Linked DNA regions of Homo sapiens: region 2 is linked to region 1. A link means that fine-mapping ties the variant in region 1 to the expression of a gene that starts in the linked region. Tissue or cell type: blood mononuclear cells. Region 1 holds a variant in brackets; the other region holds the start of a gene. All regions are shown on one strand. Distances are from middle to middle. Region 1 has its middle 20 kb from the start of TMEM106B. Region 2 holds the start of TMEM106B (transmembrane protein 106B).

What was found.
Region 2: it holds the start of TMEM106B, and the variant in region 1 is fine-mapped to the expression of TMEM106B in blood mononuclear cells (TOPMed, PIP 0.97).

What each region holds. Positions count from the first base shown.
Region 1 is chr7:12,186,374-12,195,735 of GRCh38, reverse strand. No RefSeq gene overlaps it. Among named protein-coding and RNA genes, the nearest start is that of TMEM106B, 20 kb to the left of the region's middle. The variant A/G (reference allele first, on the strand shown) is at 4,803.
Region 2 is chr7:12,207,063-12,216,424 of GRCh38, reverse strand. It overlaps TMEM106B (transmembrane protein 106B), which reads right to left and starts at 5,131. Exons shown (of 8, transcript NM_001134232.2): 1 at 5,000-5,131; 2 at 1,398-1,616. The coding sequence starts at 1,614. RefSeq lists enhancers at 4,414-4,930, 5,323-5,372, 4,931-5,449, 5,583-5,732 and a silencer at 4,833-5,142.

The sequences.
Region 1 (9,362 bases):
TCTGTCGCTCAGGCAGGAGTGCAGTGGTACGACCTTGGCTCACTGCTACCTCCGCCTCCTGGGTTCAAGTGATTCTCCTGCCTCAGCCTCCCAAGTAGCTGGGACTACAGGTGCCCACCACCATGACTGGCTAATTTTTGTATTTTTGGTAGAGATGGAGTTTCACCATATTGACCAGGCTGATCTCCAGCTCCAAAGTCAGAATATTTTTATGTTCTAGATATTATTCATATTGTAATACGGTTATTAAATGGTCTATTTAAAAAATATGTTGGTCAATAAATTATAATTGTAAGTAAATCATAAAACTTGGATTAAGGTACCATGTTTATATGAAATGTCACACAGAAAAAGAATTGCTTTCTAAGTTGTCACAGAACACATTAGTTTATGGGTGTTGTTACTGTAAGTTTACTTCAGAATATTTTGAAGTTTCTTACAATGACATGTTTACACATTGGTACAGAATATTCTGAAGTTTCTTACAATAATTTGCTTACACATGGGTACATACCTTGGTTATTACTATTATTAATTAGGGGATTTTTAAAAGAATCTATTTTTACCTCTTAGATACAGAAGAGTTTAAAAACAAAAACAAACACAAAAAGAATGGTTATATTCATGCTTATGCCTTCTCATATAAAGAAGAAACAGTATGACTGGAAAGCACAAGGCTGAAAATTCAGATGAGTCTGAATCCAAATTTGTGGATGTATGAATATTTGTACGCGTATGTGTATGCAGGTAATCCGTTTTCCCCTTTATAAGGTTGATGCCGCACTTTAAGGATTGCATGCCGATTAGGGGGATGTTATGATAAATTTTTAGTCTCTAACATAAATATACTATTTTACTTACACTAAGTGGCTAACATAGAAATATATTATGATGTGTGACTTTAGATTTAAACAAGATAAAATACAAAGATGATATCTTATGCTATCAATCAAAGCTATCATTGAGCAAAGGATGATGAGTGATCTATGAGCTTCTCCTCATCAGTCTGGAATGACTCTAGGAGGCCAGTTTGTTTTAATGTCTTTGAAATGACCTTATTTTAGCATATTTTTAAATATAAATATTTTAGCATATTTTATTTAACATGAATATTTTAGCATAATTTACTGAATATGAATATTCATGTTGAATTAAGTAGTATTTATTATCTAATCCTTTATTTTTCTCTTTTATTCATTTTTTAATTCTCAGTTGAAACTTAATTTTTATCATGTTAATGAAAATTTGTCTTATAAATAGTAATTCAGTATGACTTACTAATGACCACACAAATCAGATCAGTATTGGATCTAATACTGGATCAGTATACTGAAGCAATGCATCATAGAAACCTGGTCAGGAATGTCAATGTCAAAGCATTCCTAGAAGAAAGGATAGTTTATAGATTGCTTCTTTCTGAAAAGATAAATAAGAATCCAGAGACATAGTTTATAAATTTTATCTGTGTGTAATGGTGAGTAAAGCAGTTTTTTCTGTTTTTTTTTTTTTTTTTACCATGTTTGTGTAATCTTCTTTCAGACTTTTTGTTTATGAAAAAAAGACTTATAACCAGAAATATATAATAACCAACAGTTTGAAGTATTCCTAAGACTATTTTTCAACTTTGTTTTTAAAATTACAAAATAAAATAAAATTTAAATTAAAAAATATGGAAGTAGCTAATTAAATTAGTATTAAGGGAGGATACAGAACTGTAAATGCACGGAATAGGCTAAGACTGCAAGAAAATGTTCCAAAATATGAGGGCAGTATGTTGACTTGTCTCTTCTACTTTTTCTTTATATATGTTGGAACATTGTCTTTATAATGAATTCAACACAGTGAGCACTCTAGGAATATAAAAGTTAAGCCTTGAAAACTACTATAATGCAATAATACTGACAATACCTTATAAATTGATCATTACAGAATTTGGAAATTTCACAATAAATGTTATGTGGTTCTAAATAATGAATTACATTGTAGGCTATAACTCTAGTAATATCCTATTTATCTTGTACATTATTGTAACTTTGAAATCGAATGCACTTCCTTATCTTCTAAGCCATACTGCCTGAAATACAAGGATTATTATTTTAGATAGCTAGAAGTCCTGGTATATTTAATGTTCTAGATGCTGGATGGAAATATTCAAATACAAGAGTCATTGATGACCTCAGGATGTCTTTCAGAGAAAGAAATTTAAGATGGAATTTTAATAAAGTATTTTTCCACTTTCTGTTTTTGATTGTCTCAAGGTGTCAACAGCAGCAACTAAAATGTGATAGTACTGGACTAAACAAGAAGGCACTGAATCATTCTCTCAACCATAATTACCGGCTAATTCTGCCCTCTAGAGAAATGCTTCAAATTTAGTTTTAAATTAAAAAAAAAAGTTGTCAATGGTGTTTAAATTTTAAAAATGTCTTTAACCTTTGTCTTAGTCCATTTGTGTTGCTATAAAGAATACCTGAGGCTGGGTATATAAAGAAAAAAAAGGTTTATTTTGCTCATAATTCCACTGGCTGAAAGATTGGGCATCTGATGAAAGCTTCAGGCTGCTTCCACTCATGGCAGAAGACTAAGGGGAGCCAGATGTGCAGAAATTCTCTCTTCATATGGTGAGAGAGAAAGCAAGAGAGAAGGGAGCAAGGTGCCAGGTTATTTTTAATGACCAGTTCTCACCGCAGTTCACTTCCATCCCTGCGACTTGCCTCAGGGAGGGCACTAATCTATTCATGAGGGATCCACCTCTGTGGCTTCAAAGCCTCCCATTAAGCCCCATCTCCAACAGTGGACATCAAATTTCACCATGAGATTTGAGAGAACAAACATCCAAACTATAGCACTCTGTTCTTGGGCTCCTAGAAATAATGTCCTCCTCACATTGCAAGATATAATAATTCCTTTTCAATCCCCCAAAGTCTTAACTTGTTCTAGCAAAAGTCCAAAGTCCAAAGTTTCATCTGAGACAAGTCTCTTCCAGCTATGTTCACGTAAAATAAAAAAAAAAGTTATTTACTTCCAAGATACCAAGGTTGTACAGGCATTGGGTAAAAGATTCCTATTCCAAAAAGCATAAATCAGCCCAGAGAAAAGGGTAACAGGCCTCACACAAGTCTAAAACCCAGGAAGGATGACATTAAATTTTAAAGCTCCAAAATAATCCTTAACTTCATGTCCTGCATTCTGTGGACTAGTTCAAGGACTGGGTTTCAAGACCTCAGGCAGCAGTGCCCCAATAGCTTTGCCGGGTGTACTCCATGTGGCTGCTTTCATGAGTGGGAAGAAACATCAATGGCTTTTTCAGGCTGAAGGAGTGATATGGTTTGGCAATGTCCCCAAGCAAATCTCACCTTGAATTCCTATGTGTTGTGGGAGGGACCCAGTGAGAGGTAATTGAATCATGGGGACAGATGTCTTTCCCATACTCTTCTCATGATAGTGAGTAAGTCTCACAAGATCTGATGGTTTTATAAAGGAGAGTTTCCCTGCACGAACCCTCTTTTCTTGTCTGCCACTATGTGAGACATGCCTTTCAAATTCCACCATGATTGTGGGGCCTCCCCAGCCACATGGATCTGTAAATCCATTAAACCTCTTTCTTTTGTAAATTGCCCAGTCTTTGTATGTCTTTATCAGCAGTATGAAAATGGACTTATACAGTAAATTGGTACCAATAGAGTGAGGCACTGCTGAAAAGATACCTGAAAATGTGGAAGTGACTTTGGAAATGGGTAACAAGAAGGGGTTGGAACAGTTTGGAGGGCTCAGAAGAAGACAGGAAAATGTGGGAAAGTTTGGAACTCCAGAGAGACTTGTTGAATGGCTTTGACCAAAATGCTGATAATGATATGGACAATGAAATCCAGGCTGAGGTGGTCTCAGATGGAGCAGAGGAACTTGTTGGGAACTGGAGCAAAGGTGACTCTTGTTATGTTTTAGCAAAGAGACTGGTGGCATTTTTCCCCTGTCCTAGAGATTTATGGAACTTTGAACTTGAGAGAGATGATTTAGGGTATCTGGTAGAAGAAATTTCTAAGCTGCAAAGCATTCAAGAGGTGACTTGGGTGCTGTTAAAGACATTCAGTTTTAAAAGGGAAACAGAATATAAAAGTTTGGAAAATTTGCAGCCTGACAATGTGATAGAAAATAAAATCCCATTTTCTGAGGAAAAATTCAAGCCTGCTGAAGAAATTTGCATAAGTAACAAGGAGCCGAATGTTAATCACTAAAACAATGGGGAAAATGTCTTCAGGGCATGTCAGAGATCTTTGCAGCAGTCCCTCTCATCACAGGCCCAGAGATTTAGGAGGAAAAAAAATGGTTTTTTGGGCCAGACCCAGGATCCTTGTGCTGTGTGCAGCCTAGGGGCTTAGTAGCATGTCCCAGCCACTCCAGCCATGACCAAAAGGAACCAAGGTACAGCTTGGGCCGTTGTTTCAGAGGGTGCAAGCCCCAAGCCTTGGCAGCTTCCACATGGTGTTCAGCCTGTGGGTGCACAGAAGTCAAGAATTTAGATTTGGGAACCTCTGCCTAGGTTTCAGAGGATGTATGGAAACACTTGGATGCCCAGGCAGAAGTTTGCTGCAGGGGCAGGGCCCCCATGGAGAACCTCTGCTGTGGCTGTGCAGAAGGGAAATGTGGGATCAGAGCCCCAACAAAGAGTCCCTACTGGGGCACTGCCTAGTGGAGCTGTGAGAAGAGGGCCACTGTCCTCCAGACCTCAGAATCGTAGATCCACCAACAGCTTGCACTGTGCACCTGGAAAAGCCAGAAGCTCAATGACAGCTCATGAAAGC[A/G]GGCAAGTGATGTGGCTATACCCTGCAAAGCCACGGCCACGGGAGCCCACTTTTTGCATCAGCATGACCTGGATGTGAGACACAGAATCAAAGGAGATCATTTTGGAGATTTAAGATTTGACTGCCCTGCTGGATTTTGGACTTGCATGGGGCCTATAGCCCCTTTCTTTTGGCCAATTTCTCCCATTTGAAATAGCTGTATTTACCCAATGCCTGTATCCCCAGTGTATCTAGGAAGTAACTAACTTGCTTTTGATTTTACAGGCTCATAGGTGGAAGGCACTTGCCTTGTCTTGGATGAGACTTTGGACTGTGGACTTTTGAGTTAATGCTGAAATGAGCTAAGAATTTGGGGGACTGTTGGGAAGGCATGATTGGTTTTGAAATGTGAGGACATGAGATTTGTAAGGGGCTATGGAAGAATGATATGGTTTGGCTGTGTCCCCACCCAAATCTCATCTTAAATTTCCACGTGCTGTGGGAGGGACCTGGTGAGGTAATTGAATCATAGGGGCAGCTCTTTCCTGTGCTGGTGATAGTAAATAAGTCTCATGAGATCTGATGGTTTTATAAAGGGTAGTTTCCCTGCACAAGATCGCTTCTCTTGTCTGCTGCCATGTGAGACATGCCTTTCACCTTCTGCCAGGATTGTGAGGCCTCCCCAGCCACACGGAACTAAATAAGCTCTCTTTTGTAAATTGCCCAGTCTCTGGTCTGTCTTTATCAGCAGTGTGAAAATGGAGTAATACAAGGTGCATGCTACCAATGGCTCTATAATTCTGTAGTCTGAGAGTAGTGCCTTTGTTTTTACAGCTGTACTAGGCACTGCCCAAGTACAGGCTCTCTCAGTGGCTCTACCTCATGACAGACTTCTGCCCGGGCACCCAGGCTTTCCAATATATCCTCTGAGATCTAGGTGGAATTTGCCAAGCCTCCATGGCACTTGCATTCTGAGTACCTACAGACTTAGCACCACATGAATGCCACCAAGGTTTATGGCTTGCAACTTCCAGAGCAGCAGCCCAGGTAGTACCTAGGGCTCTTTGAACCATGGTGAGAGTTAGGGTGGTCAAAACCTAAGGAGTAGCATCCCAAGGTGGTGCAGTGTAGCCGTGACCCAGGCCTGTCCCCTGAAACCATCCTGTTATTTTAGGTCTCTGAGCCAGTGATGGGAGGGATGGACTCAAAGATTTTGAAATGCCTTTGGGGTCTTTTTCCCATTGTTCTATTAACATTTGATTCCCTTTTATCTGTACTAATCTCTCTAGTAAGTGGTTGTTCTGCAACAGCCTGGGATTCCTATCCTAAGAATGCTCTTTTCTTCTCCATCAAATGACCAACCTGCAAAATTTTATGCTCTGCTTCCCTTTTAGTTATAAATTCCAACTTTAAGTCATTTGTTTGCTTCCATATCTGATTGTAAGCTCTTAAAAGTAGGCATGCCAATTCTTGAGTGCTTTGCAGCTTAGAGATTTCTTCCGCTAGATACCCTATGTCATTGCTCTTAAATTTGGCCTTCCCAAAAGACCTGGAGCATGGAAACAATGCAGCCAAGTTCTTTGCTATGGCCTCATCAGCCTGGGCTACACTGTCCATATTTCTATTAGCATTTTGGTCACAACCATTTAACCAGTCTCTAAGAACTTCCAACTTTTCCTCATCTTCCTGTCTTCTTCTGAGCCCTCCAAACTCATCCAACCTATGTCCATTACCCAGTTTCAAAGCTCCCTTCAAATATTCAGATATCTTTAACAACCCCCCAACTCCTAGATATCGATTTTTGGTTTAGTTCATTTAGCATTGCTATAAAGGAATATCCAAGACTGGGTAAATTGTAAAGAAAAAAGGGTTTATTTGGCTGATAGTTTTGCAGGCTGGACAAGAAGCATGGCACCAGCATCTGTTCCTGGTGAGAGTCTCAGGCTTCTTCTACTCATGGTGGAAGGCAAAGTGGAGCTGTCATGTGTGGAGATCACGTGGCAAGAGAGGAAGCAAGAAACCGAGGAGGAGGGACTAGGCTCTTTTAACAACCAGCTTTTGCTGGAACTAATAGAACAAGAACTCACTGATTATCACAAGGACAGCACCATGCCATTCATGAGGGAGGAATCTGCCTCATGAGCCAGATTCTCCCAATTAGACTCCACCTCCAATGTTGGTGATCAGATTTCAACATGAGGTTTGGGGGGAGATCCAAACTATAGCAACCTTACACTGAAGATTTTGAATATTTAAAGTTCTGTACTGTTAGTGTCTTTCCCTAGACAATATTTCTCAAATCATCTGATTACATTTCATTTGGTTTAAACATTTTGTAAATTTTATAAGTTAACAAACTGAATATGAGATTAGTGGTGTTTTCATCATTTTTTTCTCTCAGTTCAGTATCAATATCCTAAATCACCATAGATAATTGACCTTTATGACCTCCAAAATGTATCAATTTTACAGTTAGTTCAGAATTAAAATTAATTATAGACATTAACATTCTTAACAAATTTATGCCAGATTGCTCCCTAGGTTTTTGGCTACAGCAGTATCAGGTGTCAGTTGTCACAAGTTATTCATTAGTATCACAATATGGTTGTTAAGTCATGAGATGGTAACAAGGCCCTGCCATTGTCAAATTTCAAAGAAAAATAAAGGATCTCTTCTTTTACAAATTCATTGTTAATCTCTATAAATTATAACCAGAATTATGCATGAATCATACTTAACTATTCAGTGTAGAGTGAAATGTCTTAATTTATTAATCTCTCATCCATTAGCTCACTGATTATAATATTAAGTTAAAGTGTAATTTTACATGTCACACGTACATTGGTTATTTCAACCTCATAATGCTATATGTAAGTTTTTCAAAGTGAAAGAGCCATTTGGATGTTAATACTTTCTGTGATTTTCCTAATTTTTTTTCAAATAATTTGCTTACAACACAAGTAAAGAGGCTTGTCTATCTTTAAAAAAGCCAGCATTCTTCTTTACATTTTCTTTTTATTTATTTCGTATTTAAGCCCCTTAGTGTTTTTGATGATACATGTAGGCTGAACCATATAAAGCTACAATTTCTGCAGTATCTTACATTTGGCTCAAATTAATATAAAAGAAATTATAGTGGAAAATGGATAAATGTTTATGATAAAGTATTTGAATTTGAACATCCAGTGCATAATTCTATATGTCAATTTTTTTTGGAAAAATGATAAATTGGAATTACTAGACAAACCTTAGATTTAGCTTCATCAATGTAAACATTATATTTAGCTTCTTCAAGATTCTCCAATTAATTCATATGAGGTTAATCATGTTGTAGACTTTATTTACTGTGAAATAACATTTATCTTACAAAGAAGATGTAATATTTTGACCTGAAAACATAGGAAACATATTTCTTCTTGATTAATTATTTTCTCTCTAAAGCTTGATGAATATCCAGTCATTCAAATGACTGAATTGTGGATTCTCTGTAAACTCCAGTTATTATACAAGTAGCCCACCTTGATAGGATGATCCTATAAAGCCTTCTTATTGCTTATAAACAGTCAAGCTGTAAAATTGGTAGGCTTTTATATAAACAAATAATGTATAAGAATAAACTGTAATTATGTTCTATGTTAATACAAAATAATAAATAACTAGATACCTATTGATTTATTCTTTGCTTATGTTCTGTTTTTAACTAGATGGACCCTTACACAGTGATGGTGCAAACAAATGGAAGTCTGTATTAATTCACATCAGGTCAGATTAGGATTCAGCAAATTTTTTATTTATACTTTATCCTGGATAATAACTTCATCTCTTTTTTAAGGTGCTAGAACTATTAGTGTATAAAACCATTTGGTATTTGGTGACATATTCAATAATAAGACAGATAAGAGAAAGCAACACAAAGCATTTTAAAATTTAAAAAGCAGGAATTTTTAGTTTTTAAAATAATACTATTCAGAGTTAGGCTGAATGTCTATAGTGAATCTTTATAACACATTATTTAAATAACAATATGAAAACGGAATGAACATTGTAGCGCTAGGTAAGTAAGTTTCTGAAGTATTTTTCAAAATGGGCTTCAGAGATGCTGGGTAAGTTATGTTTTAGTGGGATTAAAGGAAAAGAAGATATAAAATTAGTCCACTAGGTTAATTTTATCATCTAGACTAGAGATCTGTGGCAATTTTATTCTATCATATAAAAATTTTCTTCCATTTTTCATTTGGCTCCTCCCTCCTTCCTTTGCCTTTTATTTTGTCCCTTCGTCTTTTCCACTCTCTTTCCTTCCTTTGTTATTTCTTTCCTTTCCTTTCCCCCTTACTGGAATTAACACAAAGGGAAAAAAGGGCTTGAATAAGAGAAATGAGAAATCTTTTTAATACTGCAAAGACTTTCAAAGACAAAATGACAAGCTTATAGATAGGGAAAGGTGTTAATTTCTTCACTCACGTATTATGTATTATTTTCTCCCTATTAATGTTATTTGTGAGATGACAATGGTCTATCTTACATATCCTTAGTGTTACTCTGCCTATCAATTTCGCTGTAAGGCTCTTTATCCAATTTCAC
Region 2 (9,362 bases), 21 kb before region 1:
TGAACTCTCCTGTGACATATACACTCAAATAATCTTTTTTTTTTCAATTTTAATAAATTGCTACTACATTCTTTCAGTTGCTCAAACAAACCCCCCCAAAAAAACTCTGGAGTCATCCTTGATTTCCTACTTTCCATAATCTGTATCCAGGCGGCCAAAAAAGTTTACTGGTCATACCTCAAAAATGTAACCAGACTGCTAAAACAGTACTCCCCTACCCCCTGAGCCTGGTGCATTAATCCCTTCAACTACAATAATTATTTTATTCTTAAATAGCTACTATCCTTGTGAAAATAAAACCATCATACTCAAAGGCCAACGCAAATGTAAACTTCAATTCAAACCCACAGCATTTTAAGATACATTTTAAGCATCTTAAAAAGGTACACAAAGTATACTTTATACTTTGACCTTCTTCCCTCTGGGTATCTCCAGGGTCACACATCAACTTTCACCAAGAAGATAATGAGAACAGCATAAAGTATCTTTATTATTTCTACTTATTGCCACTGTTCCTAAAGTAGCTTACAAGCAGCACACAGGGGATTATTTCCTTCTGACGTCCCCTATGATATATCACAAACAATTTTTTTTTTTCAATTTGGCTCATTTTCACGTACCATCCCTCTTCACAGAGTTTCTTTAACTCATTAGGGCACAGCCAGCTTATTCTTCTTCTTTAGATAATGAATTAAAAATATTAGGTTGGCCAGGCGTGGTGGCTCACAGCTGTAATTCTAACACTTTGGGAGGCCAAGGCTGGATGATCGCTTGAGCCCAAGAATTCGACATCATCCTGGGAAACATGGGGAAACTCCATCCTTATTATTAAAAAAATAAAATTTTAAAAATAACATGAAAGAATAAGCTTCCTTACACATTAACTCTGGCTGGGCATGGTGGCTTACTGCTATAATCCTAGCACTCTGGGAAGCCGAGGTGGGAGGATTGCTTGAGGACAGGAGTTCAAGACCAGCCTGGCCAACAATTGCGAGATCTCATCTCTTAAAAAAAAAAAAAAAATAGGTCAACAAATTACTTAAATTGCTTCTAACATCTGATATAGCAAAGTAGCAAGTAACTATGATGTCATCTCTACAGATGCCAAATAGGACTAAAAGTTTTCATTTACAAGACAGTGAATATCTGCTATAATAGCAGGTGGGAATGAAAAAATACTGGAGGTAGTGAGGTGGTTTTCTTTACTGCTTTAGGAACCTTAATTAATACTTTATTTGTTTCTTTTGCATCTTTTTGACTGAAGGTAACTGATATGATGTTTCAACTTTAATTCTAAGAGTCCTCTAAAACAGGTGGTTCCTGAGACCCACAGTTTTTATAATACTTGAGCAAATACCTAAAATCATTTAAAGGGAAAACAATACAATAACACATACCCCTAGGAATTCTTCCTGTTCCCTGACAAGTAGGGCAGGTGACACTATCTCTTCCTGTAAATTCCACATATGGAAACTGAGAGACATCTCCATTTCTTCCATCTTCATTATGGACTTCACTATTAACCAGTCCATTCCTCATGTTTTCAGATGTGACTCCATCATAAGCATCTTCTTTGCTTGAATGCAAAGGCAAATGAGAAAGAGACTTTCCCATGTCTAAAGAAAAATAAAAATCTTACAGTAAACTTCAGGGAAAAAAGTACATTCAAGAACACTCTGAGATATTTACACTAATTAATTTAGAACAGTCAAGGAACAGTCAAACTCTGTAAAATATTTGAAGGGATTTATTCGGAGCCAAAAATGAGTGAACAAGGCCTGAGGCACAGTCTCAACAGGTCCTGAGAAAATGTCCTCAAGGTAGTTGGGTTACAGCTTGATTATACATTTTGGAGACAGAAATTACAGGCAGAGGCATAAATCAATAGATGTAAGGTATACATTAATTCAGCCCAGAAAAGCAGGACATTTTGAAGCAGGGGTGGAAGGCTGGGGGGTGTCCAGGTCATAGGTGCATAGGTGGATTTAAAGATTTCCTAATGGCAATTGGTTGAAACGGTTAAACTCTACCTGAGGAGTTGAAGTCAGCAGAAAGAAATGTTTGTAGTTAAGACAAGGGAGGAGGATGTGGAAGCCAAGGTTCTGATTATCTAGATGATGCCTCCAGGTAGCAGGCTTCAGAGAGAATAGTTTGTAAATGTCTCTTATTACTCCTTAAAATATTCCAGGCTCTTGGTTAAATCGCTGCTGAATTAGGAAAAGATCTGGAAAGGAAAGGGGATTCTGTACAGAATGTGGATCTTCCCCACGAGAGACAGCTTTGCAAGGCCATTTCAAAGAAATATATTTTGGGGTAAGATATTTCAATTTCTCTCAGGGCCTGCTATCTGTCGAGTGATTCTATATTAGAGTCAGGTTGGGATTTGATATCTTATTGCTACAAAGAGACTCTTGTTAGTCTTCAAATCTCTGTTTTAATTGATGCTGGTCAGTTGTGCCTGAATTCCAAAGAGAGGAAGGTACAACGGGGCATGTTCAATCCCCTCCACCCACCTTTTCATCATGGCCTGAACTACCTTTTTAGGTTTACTTTGGAATGCCCTTGACAGAGAAGCGGGTTCCACTTAGTTGGGGGGCTCAGAATTTTATTTTTGGTTTACAGAACAAACATTAAGAGAATGTTCAAACTACCTTTTGGATTATACCTTTTGGATTAGGATTATATCCAATCAAAATAATGTCTGAAACAAAGGAGCCATTTACTAGAGTCCAGAAGTGTTTTTTTAAACAAATAATGTGAAATGATGTCCTATCATGCTTATGATGAGAATGGGCTTTCAAACATTAACATTTGACAAAAGTCTACACCTGCAGGTTCTCTGAAAAGAAACATGCAGGTTTCATTTTTCTTAAAATAAAATAAAAATACATTCTACCTTTTAACTAGTTAGCACTAAAGGCAAAAATTGCTTTGGGTAGACGATAACTAGGTATTTGATGTATATCACCAAGTAACTTCAAAGTAGTACGTTTCAGCCTCTGAAAATTCACGCACCTTTGTGATAAATACAATCACCACTCTTTTCCATCCTTAAATTTCTTGCTTTAAACATTTAAACACTCGCAACAACAATAAAAAGCCCCAAAATTCCAAAATCACAGTTTTTTTTTCATTCAACAGTTGACAGTTAAAATTATGAAGCCAATGTTCCAAAATATTAAATATAAGTTACCAATACAAAGCAGCAAAATTTAGAACACTAACTTCAAAAATTTTAGGATAAGAGTATCAAAATAACAATACAAATGTAAAAATCTAAGTAGAAATAAATAATTAGTACTAGTGCCTACACAAAAATAACTTCTGCAGGTAGATAATGAAGTAACTTTATACTTAAGGTCATACCCTTTTAAAGCTGAAAAGAACTTAACAGTCATATAATACACCCTGCTGGTATTTTCCTGCTTATATCCTGAGAAAAAATAAAGTGAAAAAGTAAAACTGAAAAATAACATAATTATACTCCTTCTAAATTTGATATGTCTTTTAGCGGTTCCTAAAAATAGATTACATACATTCAGACAGATAGTATTTCTTTCAAAAATTCTCACTTATTTGATTAAACAAAACAGACATTCCAAGTAAGTCAGTTCATCCTAGAGTATGAAGAAAATTTTACTTTCTAGAACTGGCATGCCTGATAGGAGCCTGCTTGGTGGGTACAATGTGTGTTGCTCCAGTGCTGGATGCACTAAGGGCTCTGACTTCACCAGGATGTTGTGTATCAATGTAGCAAATGGCACTTGTACTCCATGAATATACACAAAATAAATACAAAGATAAAAAAATAAATAAAATTCGCATGCCATCCACTTGTTGCTGTCACTCAAATAAACAGAATTTAAAAAACTATACAAATGGTATGCAAACAAATGTAAAATGAGATTTTCACTCTTTCAAAAAAAAAAAACTATGTATTTATAAAAATCACTGCCCACATCAAAAATACAAATGATTTATGACTTCTAAAAAATCATTGTCTTAATCAACACCTGTCAGCCACAGGTAGGATAGGGAAGACTTAACATCACTGTCCCCACACACTGTAACCTTGGGGTCTATGCGGAACACTAGATGAATTGGGATCATTGGGCCTTATCAGCAAGGCCTTAAGGGCACTCTTTCTGGGATCTCAGTCAACACAGCCAGGCTGTAAGCTGCATCTTAACTGGAGCGCGTTGAGAAAAAAGACACAGAAAGGCAGACTCAAGTGGCTCTCCGTTTGAGCCTGTTTTCTGTCCTAATCTAATAGCTGCCATGATCGATTCTGCTTTAGGGTAGGTGTTTGGACAAGTGCCAGACTCTGTGAGAAACTGGGAATCCCTTGCCTTCTCTACTAGATTTTCCTTAGAGAACTGACAAGTGTAACCACTTTTATTCTTGGGAGACTCAATGGTTTAAAAAAGGGGTGCTAGACCCTCTTCTGCAACCTCTGTGGGCTCAGTGTTATTTATTATAGCGGTTCCTTAGTTTACTGAAAGTCAACATGGATATCAGACTCAGTTTGGAGAGAAAAAATATATCACAGCACTCCAATTTAAATGGCTCCTGATCTTCTGTGTAGACACTGGTTTTAGTTCTAAAAGGGCTTGAGAACTAAGGAAACAAGCGCCTTTGAAAAGCTCCATAAACAACACCTAGCACAAAGCCTACTCTGTAAAGCTGCAAAATAAGATCCCGGCACCACGGCAAGAACATTCATCAACAGCAAAAGGAAGAGGGCCACCTGGCGCTCAAGGTGTGAGGGCCTAGAGGCAACCCAGAGGTAGGGCTTGGGCCGAAGCCGAGTGTTCCCTGGCTGGGCCTCATTAGAGGCGACACAGCAACTCGATCACCAGCCCTGACCGCCGCCGTACCTGCGGCTGGCCCAGCACCCCAGCGGCCTCCCCTCCTTGTCAGGCCCGGCTCAAGCCGCGGCGCAGCCGCTCAGCCTCGCTCCGGAAGGGGACCTGGGGACTGCACGTCCGGGGTCGCTCACCGGCACGCGGGGCGCTGCGCAGTCCCGGGCTGCTTCGGCGCGGACAGGGCCGAGGACAGGGTCGTGGAGTCCACAGTCCCGGGAGCCGGGGGGTGGAGCGACCGGCCTGGAGCGCGCGGCCGCCGTAGAGCTGGGACGGGGGAGGGGTAGGATAACGACGGCATCAGCAGAGGCCAAGCGCTGCTGTAACCTGCGTCCGCGCCTGCGCAGAGCGCTCCCGGAGGGACACCCCTGGCGTGCGCGTGACGCATGCGTCCTTCTTCCTCCTGTTTGAGCCCAGAGGCGTCGATCGTGTGAGATTGTGCGCTCTTCAGGTTTCATTACCTTCGCGTCCCCCAGACTTCAAAGTGTCCACTGTAGCCACGAATTACCTAGGAACAGTCGCTCCTCCTATTTCCCATATCAGACCATTTCCTTTTGCAAAGGGTATAAATGTGCACCATCTGCCTCAGCTTTCAGCTGAGCAGCCTCCTCGCTCACGCAATGCGAGTTGTCGCTGACAGTCTGGTCCTTAGGAATGGAATAAACTGGTCCGTACACACGCCGCTGACAGCAGCAAAGCTACCTCTATTTTAATTTAGAAACTGGCCAACTAGAAGGAGACAGCAAGCGGCAAGGCCGTAGTTTTTGTTTTTGCTCGGTTTCGTTTCGCTTTGCCCACGCTGCCCCTCCCCACCCCTTAACTCTGGTGCTAGTTACAGGTGTGTGAAATCCCGTCTCGGATCCCAGTACTTAAGCTCTTCGCTGTGGGTTGGGGCTGCCCTCCCCCAACGTCTAGGTCATTTCACTTAGAAGATAAGAACAACGACAAGGAGTCGTTTTGAGGGATCAATGAGATGCCGGTAATAATATTAAGGGCACTCTAGTCTCATTCCTGCGGAGAGTTTAACGTTTAATGAATGGTAGGCATTCTTACAGTCACAGGAGCAAGGAAGTGAGAGTCATATATTTCTCTCTTCTAACAGGATCAGTGTGATCCTGTTAGAATCAGGGAATTCTAACAGGAATTGGGAAATGAAGCTATGTAAAAGTAGGAAATACAAGTCAGAACGATATACAATTTAAGAGGATTACTGTAGATCCATATGTGAGATAATGAGCTTTCTCATACAATGTTGTCGGAGATTTAAAACTCCTAAGTTTTCTGGCAGACAGTCAGTATGTATCAAGACTATTAAAATGTTCACATCGTTTGGTCCAGCAATTCCACCCTTTCAGAAGTATCCTAAACCTAATGAGAACTCTAAAAAGATTTGGGTATGAGGTGTATCCATTTAAATAAACTGAATGTCCAACAAGGGACATTGATAAAATCATTATTTTTCAACCGCTTTTATTTAGCCCATATTTTCCAAAGGGAAGGGTCAGGGTGTCTTCCATTAACACTGTTTGAAATTTCAAAATTAATAGGTTGGTTAAAACAAATCAGAATCATGGGGGAAAATTTTTCTCAAAATTATTGACAGTCCACCTGTGGAGATATGATGTTCCCCTTGGAATTACTGAGTTTTTAAAATTATGGAATAGCCATCTATTGAGTTTTTATAAAGCCAGTAAAAACCATCTTATAAGGCTGTTATACGCGGAGTGATATAAAATTAAAATCAGGATGCAAAGTATAGGATATGAGGTATTGTAATAGGATGTAAACTATATTCACATATAGATAACATATAGATATAAATATATTACATATCTGCCTTGAAATGGAAAGAAATATACAAAATATAAACAGTTGCCTGTAGTTTGAGAGCATGGATGTTTTTTCTTTATTATTGTTAAATAGGCAAATGGTTCTATAATGTAATATATATTATTCTTAAGTGAAAAAGTTACTTTTTTCTTTAATTCTTAAGGGAGTATTTAGTATTTTCTCAACCTCATCATTTAACTTAAAACGTGCTGGCCATATAGCACAGTTCCTTATCCAAATTCCTGGAATTCACATAGGAATAAGTCTTCCTGGGAGAATGTTGCTGTAAGAAGCAGTTCAGTAGCAGGGTTGGGAACACAGCCTTGGGAGCCATATGGCCTGAAAATGAGCCCAGCCTGACAGAGATATACAAAATCTCTGTAAGAGTGGGCAAAATACTTAGCCTTCTTTATACCTAATTTTTATTATCTGCAAAATGAAGATAGTAATAATGTCTGTCTCAAAGGGTTATGGATGGGAGCTGATACCTGCAGAGCAATCAGTAAATATTAGATATTATGATTACAAATTTATCATCCATATAACAAGGAAGTACTTTAAAGACAGATATTGAATGTTTGGTACATTTGTTCCTATGCCTTATTTTTCATTGAAGCACATTTTGAAAGGAAAATTTTCTGAAAAGCTTCCAATTATTTGATTAACAGTGATTTCTTGAGTTCCGAGTTCAGTAGTGGTCTAGGTGCTATCAGATATAAAGGCCAGTAATTTTAACAGTCTGGGATAAGTTTGAATAGAAGAACATTCTTTCTTAATGATTTCTGGTTATATTTAGTATGATGCTGAAGCTAAGGGATTTCTCTAGGTTGTACTAAATCTTGAAAACAGCCTTATCTCTCATTTCAATTCTCTTTTATCTCTTTTAATGGTAAATCACCCAAATCCTAATAGCAGTCAGCCATAACTAAAAATTTTGCAAAAATTACTTTTCTAGAAATTAGCTGTTAAAAATTATAAGCAGAAAAGGAACATAATTATTTTGAAACATATAATTTGTCAAATGTTAATATATAAGTCTCTCTCAGCTCACCCCCTTCCACTGATATGCTGGTCAGATTATGTTAGAAACCTGGATAGGTTACATTGGAAACCAGGGATTGAAAAGATTGAAGTTTGTCTGGCTGATTTTCAGAGATAGTGCCCCAGATACATAGCAAAACTACCATTAGCAAAACTACCATTTCCCGCTGTGCCACCTGACTTACATTCACAGGCAGTAAACTCCTGACTCTATTGACACATCTTTGTCATTCCAATTATTTTAAAAGCAGAGGTCTTTATTAATTTCTGCAAATAACTTACCTATCTGAAACTCTTGGTTATGTCTCTGTACTCCTTCTTAGGCAGGATCTTCTATATTTCCTCTGTCTCATTCATCTTGCTTCACACCTGCATGGAGCTAATCTTTCCCATGTGTTAAAACTTTCTTTCCCAAATATTCAAGTCATCTTTTGTAGGGTTTTTGTCATAATCATAATTTCTAGTAAGAATAATTTTAGGAGTTCAATAACACTTGGCCAATGAATGAATTTGTTGTGCCAGGCATTGTGTAAAGTAGTTTATATCATCTAATTTTTATAGAAATGCTATGGATTAGGTTCTGTTATTATCCCATATCTTATTTCAAACAGTGGAAATAGAGGATCCTAGGTATTATGACTTGCACATGACCACACAGCTAGCAACTAGAACTCGGATATTTTGACTGCAAAGCTACAGCTATTAACCACTGTGGCATGAATATCTGTATTAAATTTGGAAGAGTGAATTCTGTCCTCAACTTTTACTACACAAAGATAAGTGATGACGGTGAGTAAAGTTAACTGGTTAGGGGGGGAAAAGAGGGTATTTTCACTCTTTTGCTAAGTGATCATCACTGCTGCTGAAAAGAGGAGAATTGGGTCCAGAAATCCTTGAGGAGGTGTTCCGAATATAAAATAAGGAAAACACAGAGTCCAATTAGGATTTATGTTATAAAAGACTGTTTCTTCACAACAAACACAAGCTAGAGAAGGTTTTTTTTTTTTTAAACATTTTTAAAAAACTTATCAAAGAAATGAGGACGCAAATTTAAGTACACTTAAATCCAAAAGATAAGGAGAGCTTCCTAAGAGAGAATAGAATTAGAGTTGCTTTAATCACCTACAAAACAGTGGGAGAAGGAGGAATGCACCATAAACAGGGCCGAAGGGAGACCTGCCGAATGACACCCCTGTGTGTGGACCAGGATGATAGATTACAATCTCATGTCGTTCCAGTGATAGAACGAGTGTGCACTCACTCTCCAATTCTCTCCTAAAGGTCTTCATTAAGTGCTCAAATGTCATATGTTAAAGGCATGGGGTAGGGCATGAATGCTGAAGAAATTTCTTTGCAGATTCTAGGCCTTTAACCAGTGTACTGCAGCAGCTCTGTGAAGGCTGGAGGCAGGGTGGCAGGCTGCCCAGGATTCTCCTGAGGCACAGAAATGACCGGCAAGACTGGAGAGTAAACAGAACAACCTGTGGAGATATTGGAAGCTAGGTGTTTGAGCTAAGAAAGTATTGAATAGTTTGGTGGAATGAGCTAGTAGGTGCACATTAATCTTGAGATTTTGCCAGTGCCAAGAACTCAAGCATATTTGAAAGCAATAGTAAATAAACTGAATCA